Homo sapiens: one gene and its partners. The protein of the gene in region 3 interacts with the protein of the main gene of each other region in a pairwise test. Each region holds a gene or a part of one and is shown on either strand. Other genes may lie near its edges.

Region 1 (3,500 bases), on a different chromosome or scaffold from region 3:
AGAAATTTTTTTTCATTAAAAAAAAAAAAATCCCTCCTACTGGCCCACAATAGCCAGAAGAAGTCTTCGGTAATCTCCACTCGTGTCACCTGCAATCATTGTGCCCAGAGTCTTCTGATACATCTGAGCGAACATCTGTTTTATTTGTACAAGGTCAATCTGCATAAGAAATAATATTTCTGTCAGAAAAACATCTGTGACAACTGACATTTCTTAAAATTCTTTTTAAATAATAAGATCTTAATAATAATCAAAACTTGGGGGGGAAAACACCAAGTGACTGACATTTTATGGCTGGCACTCATACCAATGCTAGCACTACCCAATGAAGGTCTGATTCACAGCTCTGTAAAATACTTGGTCAGGGTAGTACTAGTTTCATCTATTATTCCAAAGATATTAGTCATTTAAAAACATTTGATAGGATGGCTATTATCAAAACCAAAAAAATAGTAAGTATTGGCAAGGATGCCATGAAATGGGAACACTTGTACACAGGTTGATGGAAAAGTAAAAGGGTGCAGCTGCTGTGGAAACTAATATGGTTAATTCCTCAAAGCAAAACAAAAACACTTCCAAAGAATTACAATATGACCTAGAAATTCCACTTCTGGGTATATTCAAAATAAGTGAAAGTAGACTTGAACAGATATTTGTACATCCATGTTCATAGCAGCATTATTCAGGCAGAAACAAACCAAGTGTCACAGATGAATTAAAAAAAAAACCAAAAGGTGGGATACACGTACAATAGACTATTTAATTACTCAGTCTCAAAAGGAAGGAAATTCTGACATGCTATAACATGAATAAACCTTGAGGACGCTATGCTAAGTAAAAGACAACACTCACAAAAAGACAAATATTGTATGATTCCACCAATATGACGTACCTAGAGTAGTCAAACACAGGCACAGAAAGTCACATGGTTTGTTGCCAGCAGTTGGGAGAAAGGAGAATGGGGAGTTACTGTTTAAGGAGTATGGATTTTCAGTTTTGCAAGTTGAAAAAACATCTGAAGGTGAATGGTAATGATGGTTGCATAACAATGTGAATGTACTTACTGCTACTTAAAAATGGTAAATTTTTATGTTATGTATATTTTATCACAACTTAAAACATCCTGCTTTGAAAATTTAAGTTAAAGAACAAAGTTTTTTTCAAAATACCATATTCTGGTTGTTTTCTTTAAAAATAATCTACCTTCTTTAGTATAATTTAGGGTTTTTGGCCGGGTGTGGTGGCTCATGCCTATAATCCCAGCACTTTGGGAGGCCGAGGCAGACGGATCATCAGGTCAGGAGTTCGAGACCAGCCTGACCAACATGGTGAAACCCAGTCTCTACTAAAAACACAAAAAAATTAGCCAGGCATGGTGGCACGCACCTGTAATCCCAGCTACTCAGGAGGCTGAGGCAGGAGAATCACTTGAACCCGGGAGGCAGAGGTTGCAGTAAGCCGAGATTATGCCACTGTATTTCAGCCTGGGTGACAGAGCGAGACTCCATCTCAAAAAAAAAAAAAAAAAAAAAAAAAAAAACACGCAATAATAATAATAATTTAGGGTATTTTTTTGACACAGGGTCTCTGTCACCAAGGCTGGAGTGTAGTGGTGCGATCACGGCTCACTGCAGCCTTGACCTTCCAGGCTCAGGTGATCCTTCCACCTCAACATTCTGGGTAGCTGGGACTACCATGCCGGGGGGTGGGTGTGGGTGTGTGTGTGTGTGTGTGTGTGTGTGTATTTTTTGTATAAATAGGTTTCACCGTGTGTGTGTGTGTGTGTGTGTGTGTATTTTTTGTATAAATAGGTTTCACCATGTTGCCCAGGCTACCACGCCCCGGCGTGTGTGTGTGTGTGTGTGTGTGTGTGCGCGCGCGTGTGTTTTTTGTAGAAATAGGTTTCACCATGTTGCCCAGGCTGGTCTCAAACTCCTGGGCTCAAGCAATCCTCCCGCCTTGGCCTCCCAAACTGCTGAGATTACAGGAGTAAGCCACGACACCCCGCCATGTTTTCTTTCAATTAAAAGTTCAGGCCAGGCGTGGTGGCTCACGCCTGTGATCCCAGCACTTTGGGAGGCCGAGGCAGGTGGATCACTTGAGGTCAGGAGTTCGAGACCAGCCTGGCCAACATGGTGAAACCCCATCTCTACCAAAAAAATACAAAAACTTAGCTGGGCATGGTGGCGCACACCTGTAGTCCCAGCTACTCGAGAGGCTGAGGTGACAGAATTGCTTGAACCCAGGAAGTGGAGGTTGCAGTGAGCTGAGATCGTGCCACTGCACTCCAGTCTGGGTGACAGAGTGAGACCATGTCTCAAAAAAAAAAAAAAAAAAAAAAAATTCAAATGTCATTTCTTCTGAGAAAAAAAATTTTTTGTAAGTGGAGTAAATATATAAAGTACAATTTTTAAAAATGAGGCTATACTTGAGACAATTATGAATATTTTAAAAATTGTTTTATTATTAATAAAGGATGCTAAATTTAAATAATGTTGATATCCACTAGGATTAATCTACATAGGCCTTTCATCTAATTTTTATATAAGCAAAATGAAAATCGAAAGACAAATGTCTAACTTCCCATAAATTTGTATTCTCCATTGACGTTCTCAAGTTGTAAAATCTGTTAGTATTATCTTCATTAGGGTAGAGTGGCCTATTTCACTAATGCAAGCTTCTCCCACAGCATGAGGAAAGTGAATTTTCTGTTCTTTATACCACCTCTTTTAGGTGGCAAAGAGAGCTCTTTCTTATCATTTTTGAGGGACTGACAACCAACTGGGGAACTTTTAAGAAATCAACATTGAACATCAAGTAAGACCCGACAAAAAGAGAGAGGCCTGCCTCACCTCACTTCGAGTGACCACAATCCGGACCAGGGTGGAGTCATCTGTGCCAGCACCTTTCATAGCATAGTAGAGCCTCTCAGCAAAGAAGGCAGGGCGGTTCAGGGCACACTGCACTGCAAGTTAGAGATGGTTGAGACATGGAATCATGATCTCACAAGAAGTGTACCCCTCCAGCTTCATTTATCACTTATAGCCTGCCTTTGATTATTTTCTCTGTAATCATCACAGAAACATGGGGTGAGTTAAGAGTGTTCAGATGCTCTCCTTGATTTTTTTTGAGACAGGTTCTCACTCTGTCATCCAGCCTAGAGTGCAGTGGTGCAATCATGGCTGACTGTAGCCTCCCAGACTCAGGTGATCCTCCCACCTCAGCCTTCTGAGTAGCTGGGACTACAAGTGTGAGCTACTGCCCCTGGCCCAACATTCCATTGTTAATACCAAAGTGTTACTAATACTCCCCTTAGTCCTAATATCCATGAGAATGAAACTTTCACTTTGTTAGACATCTGTGTATTAGACCACCAGAAACTGGTTAACTTCAAAAAGGAAATGAGTCTCACTGGGCTGAGTACCTGAAATATCTGTTTTGAGGACTCAAACTGCTTCGTGGTGACACTGTGAGTTCCTCAGGACTTTCCCTTTCTCTTT
Region 2 (3,500 bases), on a different chromosome or scaffold from region 3:
CCAAGTGTGGTGACATGTGCCTGTAGTCCCAGCTACTTGGGAGGCTGAGGCAGGAAGAACACTTGAGCCCAGGAGGTCAAGGCTACAGTGAGCCATGATTGTCCCACTGCACTGCAGCCTGGGCAAGAGAATGACACCTTGTCTCAATCAAATGAAAATAAATAAATAAATTTGTATAATGATGGCCAGGGATGGTGGCTCACACCTGTAATCCCAATGCTTAGGGGGGCTGAGGCAGGAGGATCACTTGAGGCCAGGAATTTCAGATGAACCTGGGCAACAACATGAGACTTTGTCTCTACCAAAAATAAATTTTAAAAGTGTCTGGGCATGGTGGCACACACCTGTAGTCCCAGCTCTCTGGGGGGCTGAGGCGGGAGGATCACTTGAGCCCAGGAGTTCGAGACTGCAGTGAGCCATGATCATACCACTGCTCTCCAGCCTAGGTGACACAGCAAGACCCTGTCTCTTAAAGTAATAATAATAATAATTTTTTAAAAAGTCAATGTACTTTGAGGGTGAGATAGTTCCTTCCCAGGAAAAGGATGTGGGGAGGACATACAGATAAATTTAGTCTTCAAATGAGTCAAAGCACAAGCTTTGGAACCAGGTCACTGAGATTATGGGAAGAGAAGAGTGGGCAACTTGAATTTGAAGCAACAGAGTCTAAGTAAAAGGGGGTAAATGGATAAAAAAACAAAAATCATAATCTTTGGGATAGAAACTCTTGGAGATAGCAGGATTATATTTAATTATGTGTGTGTGTATACATACATATACATACACACGATTACATATATTTAATTATGTGTGTATACACACATATATATACACACACGCATAATTAAATATATATATAATCATCCTACTATCTCCAAGATACACATACACACCACACACACACACACACACACACACACACACACACACACACACACACACATATTAATAGCAGAACTGGCCAGAGGATAAAGAGAAAAAAGCAAGTAAGGGGAATGTAATATAAGAATACTGAATTTCTAAGATGCAGGCAAGTGATGCCTATAAAACCATTGACGTTGTTCAGTGAAGGGAGACGTTTGGTGAATTTAACTCACATTTGCACAAGTTTTGCTGTTTACAAAATGATTTCAAAATTACAACTTCATGTCAAGGTGCCTGTGAGGAAGGCAGGGCAGGGCTTATCCCAAGTTGAATAAGGGAGTCGGGGGCAGGGCAGTTCTTATTATCCCTTTTGCAAATGAGGAAACTGGGGCTCTGGGGTGTGTTCCAGTTCATGAAGTCAATTAATGACGGAACTTTTTTTTTTTTTTTGGAGGCAGTCTCACTCTGTCCCCTAGGTTGAAGTGCCATGGTATGATCTCTGCTCACTGCAACCTCCACCTTCTGGGTTCAAATGATTCTCGTGCCTCAGCCTCCCAAGTAGCTGGAATTACAGGTGTGTGCCACCACACCTGGATTATTTTTGTATTTTTAGTAGAGACGGGTTTTCGCCATTTTGGCCAGGCTGGTCTTAAACTCCTGACCTCAAGTGATCCACCTGCCTCGGCCTCCCAAGGTGCTGGGATTACAGGCATGATCCACCATGCCTGGCCAGAACATCTTTTCTTTTCCCTTATTCTGATTCTTCCTGTCATGTAAATAGATACATGATGCAAGTTGTTTTTTCACAGAATTCATGGGGGCAAAATGAGGCTATATGTTTTAAATTCTTTATGAAACAAATCAAGTATTATTAACAAAACCTCCTCACTGGCCCTGGCATGGGGCAGGCCTCCAGAGGAAACTCAGATAGCCAAAGTCACGGTTTATGAATTCAAGAAAGAGAAGTCAGCTGCTCTCTTCAGGGGGCCATAAATGAAAATTGGCCTTTATGCTTCCTGGGACTTGGTCATCAGATCCAAGAGGTCAGAAGGTTACTAGACACAGATCAGGGTTGAGAGCTGGCACCAGCCCAGGTCATAAGTACACACAGTACCCTCTTCCAATATTTAACAGGACACAGTGGCCTCTGAGTTAACTGCCTATGTCTTATCAATGCATGTGTAGTGCCAGTGTTGCCTGTGGTTTTATAGTTTGACTCTTTGGAACTTACACAGATCCAGGAAAATTATTTCAAACATTACATGAGGGATTTGGATATGTCTCTTTATGTCAATTTCCAGTTGGATATTCAGTTTGTTATATCGATGTTTCAAAGAGGTTCAGGAGGTGTTGCAGGGAACTTTTCCCAGCCCCCTTCAAATTGTGCCACCTAAAAAGCCCCTGTATGCAAGAGAGGTTCCCTACACATTCCTCCTGTCCTCCCCAGGTTGTGCCCAGGACACCAATATCTGAAGTGTGAGGGCAAGAGTCTGATGGCTCAACAAACAGAACGTGGCAACCACACTAAGAATTTGAATTAATGTTGTCCACGTTCCCTGAATTTATTGTTCTTTTTAATGGAAAAATCATGGGTCTGCATTCCAAGGGTCCTAGTGGCTATTGGATCATCTCTGCTTCTATCACCCTTGGGATGAGCTATATAATTAACTATGGAGATATGATAAGGAAATTAATCAATGCTTAACAGCATTTAATAAAACTCAATATTCATTCATGATTTAAAATTCTTGGTTAACCAAGAGGAATAGAAGAGAGCTTCACTAACTTGATATGGAATAGTTACTAAACACTTTTACTAGCTATCTTATTGGAGAAGCATTAGAATCAATCTCATTAAAATAAAAAATAAAGATTTTATTGCTGGCACTATGATGGAGAAGTTGGTTACAGAAAATCCTCCTGGTATGCAGCACCTAGAAATACTAAATTTTTAAGAATGTCATTTTTCATGCAGGATTGAGCTGGTAGGAAAGTAAAGGAAGTCTCAAGAGGCCAAAATTTATAAGATTATGCTAAGCCAGAGGCATGAGAAAGGGAAGTCATGATCATCCTGGAGTTTTCTGGACTCCTGTAGGCCTGGGGCCTGGATTTTAATGGTAGAATAGGAGACAAAGCCTGGAGCCTAACCAGATCATAGACTATAAACTCAAGATCCCCTAAGGGTGACATCCTCAGTAGAAACCATGGAGGGAGACAGGTCTATCCCAGGCCTTCTCAGCCTTGGCTCTGGGTAGAGCAAAAAGAAAAGTCTCCTTTGAAATTCTTAACAACAGGCCTGCAATCAAGTAAGTTTGGGTCAGGATTCTCACTATTTGTGTGGCCAGTAGACCCCAAGCTTATGGTGGTCCCAGTTAGTTCTGTCCTCAGGTTCCTGGCAAAAGCAAAAATAAATCCTCTAGAGGAAAACAATTTCAATCTCAACAAGTCCCAAAGAGAAGTTTCCAAATGAGTTCATAGTACAAAATAAAAATGGAAATCAGGAACATGACAAGAATTCCTAGGACATCTAAGTGTTTGTAAAGAGTATCTCCTAGAATTGTGCAGTATAGAACCCACACAACTGTATGCATCACTTCTGAGACTATCTACTTTCATGGCTACTACTCAGCATTATG
Region 3 (3,500 bases):
ACGCGCCCCTCCCTCAGCAGCCGCAGCAGCCCAGAGGTGGACGGGCCTGGGAGGCACCCTCAGCTCCACAGTCCCCAAAACACACCGGCTGGGGACGGGGCCACCCGGGTGGCCATGTGGCAGGTGGGGCACCTGGTGGGTCTCACGTGGACACGTGCATCCTCGAATGCTCCGGTCACGCTCCACACGCGCCACAGACACAGGCCACACGCTCCACACGCCACAGACACGGGCCACACACTCCACATGCCACAGACACGGGCCACACACTCCACACGCTCTACACACTCCACAGACACAGACACACACGAGGCAGAGCAAAAAGCAAAAAGGTGGAAAGAAACCACATGGCGCAGGATTCCAGTCAAGATGTCGGCAAGGAGTCACTCATCCAAACTCAGGTGCCTGAAGACACGGCTGCAGGGCGGTGCACGTACATGGAGCTGGCACGCACACACGCAAGTGCACAGGCCGGTACCCACGTGTACACAGCACACACACGTGAACAGGGCTGGCAGAACACAGATGTGACTGGGCTGGTGCACACACGCATGTTATCAAGTTCTGGCTCCTGAGAGAACAAGGGCAAGACGCCCAGTGCCCAGACCCTGGCTTCCAGCTCCAGCCACGGGAGACAGGGCTTCCTGGAAAGGCGGCAGCTATTGCACTGGGGCAGGTGGCACGGAGGCGAGCCCAGAGCATCTCACCGTGCCAGGAAGCGGGAAGGAAAGCCTGGAGCATCTCGTGGTGCAGGGAAGCGGGAAGGAAGTGAAGCTCAAAAGCCCCTAGGACAGGGCACCTCCCCTCTGGATGCTCTTTCCAGAAACCCTCAACCCTGTACGGTCAGGAGGAAACATGGCACCTCCCCTCTGGGGGCTCTTTCCAGAAACCCTCAACCCTGTACGGTCAGGAGAAAACACATCCCACAAGCCCAAACTGAGGGACAGCCTAAAACCTCCTACCCAGCCCTTCTCAGAACTGTTACGTCCTCACAAAAACGGGAGAGTCTGAGACACCGTTCCAGCCCAGAGGAGACAGAGGAGACAGGACAGCTGAGTGAACGTGGGTCCTGGAGGGACGGGGCCCTACGCAGGAGAAGGGCGAGAAGGGACCCGCGTGTGGGAAGGGAAGTCTAAACACCCACAGCGGCCGCTGTCGCCGCTCGGCGCAGGAGTCAGGGAGACCCGGAGACCTGCTGTTACTTCCCACTCCCCATGCCCACCTCCTCAAACGAGACAGCTTGGGGTTTCGTTACAGGCACCAAAAAGAAACCCCGGTCCAGCTGGAGACGCACCGAGCAGAAGCCTCAACTCCCCTCGCCCAGGCGTGCAGCCCACCCCCAGCACCGGCTGAGCAGGGACGGGGACCCTTCCCCTGTGATGCCGCGAGCCAGGCCTTCGTGAGCTCAGGGGTGGTGAACCTGACAGGCCCCAGGGGCACCAGCAGCCTCTTCGTGGGTTGGTCAGCTCACCACCAAGTGAACTCAGGCCACGCAAGGACCCCCGAACCGTACCATCTGAGGAGAGGTGCAAGGGGACACCACACCTGGTGCCCAGGTCCTCCAGCTGGCACCGTGCCTCCGTCCCACCAGCTCACCTGTGCTCCGCCCGAAAGCCTGGATCCTCAGGGCCCTCCCGCCTGGCCCTCAGCCCAAGGGCCGTGGCACAGCCAGACCAGTCCTCACACCTTTCCTACCTGCTCCTGCACCCCAGGACCCCAGCCCTGCCCAATCCCCTTGCTCACCAGCTTTGCCACCTGCCCCTCTGCACTGGTCCTGGAGCACCAGGCCCGGCGGGAAGGCGAGCTCGTGGCCAGGCCCTGCGGGAAGGCGAGCTCGTGGCCAGGCCCGGCGGGAAGGCGAGCTCGTGGCCAGGCCCGGCGGGAAGGCGAGCTCGTGGCCAGGCCCGGCGGGAAGGCGAGCTCGTGGCCAGGCCCTGCGGGAAGGCGAGCTCGTGGCCAGGCCCTGCGGGAAGGTGAGCTCGTGGCCAGGCCCTGCGGCGGGGGCTGCCTCCTTGTGCCCAGGTCTCGCAGGTCCCAGGAGGCCCAGGGTGTTCTCTCACCTGCACCTCGGCTCCCTGCCCGGCACCCTGGCTGGCCTGGGGGACTCACGGGCACGCCCTGACCCTGCTCTGCCTCCAGGGGTGAGGCCAGCGCTGAGTGCAAGTAGGTTCCAGGGCCACACCGCAGGGCACCCCGGCCGTGCCGTAAGGAGTAAGGCGCCCGTGCAGGACCTGGCTCCTTGTGGGTGAGTGGTCAGGTTGACCCATCTTGGACCCCTCACAACAGGCTCTCGAGACTCAGGGATGGGGTCGGGGGAGAAAGCTCGGCACTAGGCACAGAGGCAGCAAGAGGGTCTCGGGACTCAGCAGGGTGGGGGCAGTGACGGCCAAGGATGGGCCACTGACAGCACAGCTCTGCTCCCGACCAGGCCAGCAAAACAAGCCAACCCCACACACCCCCAGCCTGCGTGTGATACGCGGCCCGTGTGTGACAGGGACCCCAAACACACAGGGTAGAGGGCGTGTCAGGAGGAGCCCAGAGCACCCTGTACCAGCTCTCCAGCCACCTGTGGCAGCCCCTCACTCCTCAGCCAGGCCTCGTCCAACTGGGGCTGCAGCCTGCGGAGGCTGCCCGTGGCCGGCGTCTGCCCCTCAGCATGGAGGACGCTGACCACTGCAGTGCCGCGTGGGCTCCTCCAGGCTGTCCTAGGGACGGCCACACAGGCCCACTCTGGCCCTCTGAGCCCCCGGCGGACCCAGGGCATTCAAGGAGCGGCTCTGGGCTGCCAGCGCAGGCCTCCGCGCAAACACAGCAGGCTGGAAGTGGCGCTCATCACCGGCACGTCTTCCCAGCCCGGCAGGTCCCGACACAGGGCCCGGCGCCCCCCACCGCGCAAAGCCAGGATAGGAACACACAGGCGAGCGCACGCGGACAGCCCCCCAGTCTGGGCACATGGCGGCACCTACTTGGAAAAGATGACCATCAGCTTCCTCCGGCTCCGCCGCGGCTCCGCGTCCTCATCAAAGCCACCCAGGTCCTTGCCTAGGAAGACCTCCTGGTGGAAGCCGCGATTGAGGTGCCCGTCCATCTCCAGCTTCACCCCGTTCAGGTGGTCTGGGGGCAGGATCTCATTCTCCTCCCTGTTGGCTACTCTCTCTCGAGTGGACGAGTGGTTGGCAGGCCGTGCAGACGCGTCCATCAGAAGGACTGCCCCCAGGAGCCAGAGGCAGCACGGAGCCAGGCCAATGAGGGGACCCCACCTGGACGCCATCGCCACCCAGGGCCAGACCATGGGGCGGGCTGCAGGGTGTGGGCCAGGTGCTGGGAGGGGCAGGGGCAGGGGCAGAGGAGGAAGTGAGGTCCTGGCTCCAATCCAATCCCCGGGCACCACGGAGGGCTCTGTGTCCCCAGGACGGCCGCAGGATGGGGACAAGCAGCTCACAGTCTGCAGAGAGACACAGACACATCATTAGCAAGACTCAGCAAAGACTTCCCCAAGC
Region 4 (3,500 bases), on a different chromosome or scaffold from region 3:
CTGAATAGCTGGGACTACAGGTACAGACGTGCACCACCATGCCCAGCTAATTAAAAAAAAATTTTTTTTTGTAGAGATGGGGTCTATGTTGCCCAGGCTGTCAGATTTGTTTTGTTTGAAAAAAAAATTTTAGTCTTACAAATCACAATGTTAAGGCTCACTGACAGATTATGAGACAAGCCTGCAAGCACTTTTAAGGCTTCTAAGGTAATAGTAAGAGTATTAATTGTAAAACACTATAACTCCCTTTTACATTTCCAAGATTTAAGAAGAGATAGAATAGATGGAGATTAAATTCAATGAAAACACAGATAAGAGTTTAACTCAAAGAAAAGTTGTAGTGATGAGTTTCGATTCTAAGTTTGCTGTCCCACAACTAAAGACGGAATGATTTAAAAAAAAAAACGGCAAAACTTCATTTTATAAATGGAATTTTAAAAATTTCTATTTGTAATGCCCACATATGGTAAAGATGAGCTATTTACGTTTAAGAAACAACTGAATCAACAAGAAAGTCAATACAGGGTTTTTACACTTTTTAGAAAAATGTAAGTGAAAGACCACTCTGATTTTCTCCTAAAACTCAAGTTTCTTCAAGTATCCTTGGGGACGTGAAAAGGAATTCATGCCTTTTCTGACTCAATTATTTTAGTATTTTCCCATTAAGCACCAGAAAAGTCAATCTACATGAGTTGTGCTCCCAAACTGCAGTTACTATTTTGTATAGGAGAAAATGGTGCTTTTTGCCAAACCACAGCCTTATTCCTATCAGCATTGAAAAAAATAAATTATATATATAGTATTATATAGACCTCCACTGTACTACATATATATATATACTCTCTCTATATATGTACTATATATAATATATATATATATATATATATATAGACCTAGAGGATAGCACTGGCATTCATTTCACTCTCCTATGAAGTAGGTATTATCATTCTCATTTTACAGATGAGGAAACCAAGGCACCCAACCAAAGGCATATAGTAGGAACTGGAAGAGCTGGGATTAAAAACCCAGGAAGTCTGGCTCCAAACTTTATATTCTTATTCACTATATAGTAAACCATCCATCTTGTAACCCTAACACTCATCTGTAACTAATGTGTTGTTTCCCACCAGAGCAGTAGTTCTTCACCAGGGTGATTTTGCCCTCCAAGTTCACCTCCCTTGTCCCCCAACAATCCAACTGGGGAACATCTGGCAATGTCTGGAAACATTTTTGGTTGCCACAACTTGGGGGCTGGGGTGGTGTGACTGGCATCTAGTGGGCAGATATTAAAATTCCTATAATGCACAGGAGAGTCGCCAGAATACATTATCAAACATAAAACATCAATAGTGCTGAGGCTGAGAAACTCTTCAATAGAATATAAATTCTAGGAGGGCAGCATTTTATAGTTGATCTTGGTTGCTGCTACATCCTTAGGCCTAGAACAATTTTTATACTTAAGTACTTAATTTGTCCAATGAATGAATATTTAGCTGTTTGAGCCTAGAACTGGGCCTGGTACATAGCTGGTAGGCAGCAAACATTTATTAAAAGTAATTATTGAATAATGGCGGTATCAATGGATGTAACAGGACATAGTAAATTGAAGTAATTTTAGTGTTTCACAGTCCCAGTTTTTTGGGCTTAATTTTTTTCCCAAATGATTATAAATAAAACCAGTTCTGCCAAAACAAGTCCCTTTTGTAAAGAATCAGACTTTTTCTTAACATGAAAGCCTTTAAAAATGTATCATTCAAACAGCGTGTATTTAGGGGATTAGCAGATACCCCTCTATTAGATATTATCACTGATTAATTGCTCCAGTAGCTGGCAAATACTTTCAAAAAGTTTTTTAAGAGCTTTACAATTTTTAAAAAGTTTTAAAATAATTCTATAAGAATTCAGTTCTTACAGAATTCAATTATAGCATATTTAAGAAAAATATCGATTCTCTAAGTGCTTAATCCACATCACTCAAAGATTTTTATAACCACAATATTCTAACTTCAATCCTGTATTTTAAAAAATCCATAGTGTAACATCCATGAAAGTATGTTAAATCGTTCCTCTTTTACCTACCTCATCAAATAGCTACTGAACATTACCCAAAGGCATTTATTCGTAAGTAATACTGCTTGATTTACAAAATTATTTCTCAAGGAAAAGTTCAAAAGGTGGTTATGTGGATATTCAAACAATACCAGAAAACTCGCTACTTCCTTATTCCTGTAATTAATGAGTCTGGCTTGCCCAGATGTTAAATTATGAAACCATGCTGTGTAAAATGCACCTATTACAATTAAAACCAGGGTAAACCCGTATTTATTTACTAGCACTGTTAAAACATTACACAAAACACATTCAAGTGGCAAGTAATTATAATGCAAGCCCTTGCATGGCAATCCAAATTTATTGAACTACTGATGCTAAGTTATACAAAATTGCACCACTTTAATTAAGGCTTTTAGTTTACATTTGGCCACCTCAAAGTAGTTGTAACATTAGGTTGGTCAATTTAAATACTGTGGCTCCCTGTTGGATAGACACACAATCTTTACATCCAAACATTAATGCATACAAAGCAACAAGGCATTGTTAAATAAAACAGCAATAGTTACTGCAAATTAGGCCTTGTGACCAATTACATATGATTAAAATTACTTCCCACATTCACATCCACAGTACTCGTCCACCATTTAACATCTCAACCAAAACGTTACACATGTGAAACAATCACTAACAGGCAAAAATACTAAACCTGTATATTTGGTATTGCAAATACACTTATGCATGAGCAAGCAAGGGATTCACAGTGAGAATCTACAGCTGCAGAAGCCTGAAAATGATTTACAAAAATTGTTAAATCATTAAAAAATTGTTTGAAAATATACACTTCTTGTTGTAGACCCCCACTGTACACACGACTATAAACATTGTTCCCTATGTAAACAAAAAAAGGAAACATATAATAAGAGATTTGAAAAGTCTGGACATTTCCTTCCCAACAGATATTAAAGGCAACGTCTTTAATCTAAGACATTATACTGAAAGGACTATCATGTTTTAAAGACAAGATCACCGTCTCCACAGGTTTTTTAAAAATTAAAAAAACTATATAGCTGTGTTAATCAAAGCGCTTATTTTGTACAATAATAATGACCTTGAATTTCTTAAAAAAAATTACAATAAGCTACAAGTATCAAAGAAGCGAAGTTATCTGGAGTAGTCTATATAGGAGCTCTTTGGACTTTCTTTTATTATGCTAAAATAGTGGTGCTTTTAGGATTTACATTATTGTACTCTCCAATACAAAGTATGGGGCATGTTAAAGTATACAGTACACCATTTTCATACATGTACAACATTGGTGGATGAAGAATGTCTCTTAGCAGTAATACTGGATGTAGCCTCTGGTTTTACCAGCTGCAAACTCTAGGACTATTATATAAGTAAAAATCTCTCTTGTGATACTGGAAAGTGATTAGAATGTGCAAACTGAT

What was found.
Region 1: the proteins of SDF4 (region 3) and ANXA7 interact in a two-hybrid assay, tested with the Homo sapiens proteins (one large-scale study listed by BioGRID and IntAct).
Region 2: the proteins of SDF4 (region 3) and NR1I2 interact in a two-hybrid assay, tested with the Homo sapiens proteins (one large-scale study listed by BioGRID and IntAct).
Region 4: the proteins of SDF4 (region 3) and RAP1B interact in a two-hybrid assay, tested with the Homo sapiens proteins (one large-scale study listed by BioGRID and IntAct).

Annotation. Positions count from the first base shown.
Region 1 is NC_000010.11:73,376,059-73,379,558, forward strand, and holds part of ANXA7 (annexin A7), read right to left. Parts: intron 2,966-3,500; coding exon 2,853-2,965; intron 160-2,852; coding exon 37-159; 3' UTR 1-36. UniProt on the Homo sapiens protein: Calcium/phospholipid-binding protein which promotes membrane fusion and is involved in exocytosis.
Region 2 is NC_000003.12:119,785,101-119,788,600, reverse strand, and holds part of NR1I2 (nuclear receptor subfamily 1 group I member 2), read right to left. Parts: intron 1-3,500. UniProt on the Homo sapiens protein: Nuclear receptor that binds and is activated by variety of endogenous and xenobiotic compounds.
Region 3 is NC_000001.11:1,225,502-1,229,001, forward strand, and holds part of SDF4 (45 kDa calcium-binding protein isoform 2 precursor), read right to left. Parts: intron 3,446-3,500; 5' UTR 3,293-3,445; coding exon of another isoform or gene 3,272-3,292; coding exon 2,967-3,271; intron 1-2,966. UniProt on the Homo sapiens protein: May regulate calcium-dependent activities in the endoplasmic reticulum lumen or post-ER compartment. Isoform 5 may be involved in the exocytosis of zymogens by pancreatic acini.
Region 4 is NC_000012.12:68,659,399-68,662,898, reverse strand, and holds part of RAP1B (ras-related protein Rap-1b isoform 1 precursor), read right to left. Parts: 3' UTR 1-3,500. UniProt on the Homo sapiens protein: GTP-binding protein that possesses intrinsic GTPase activity. Contributes to the polarizing activity of KRIT1 and CDH5 in the establishment and maintenance of correct endothelial cell polarity and vascular lumen.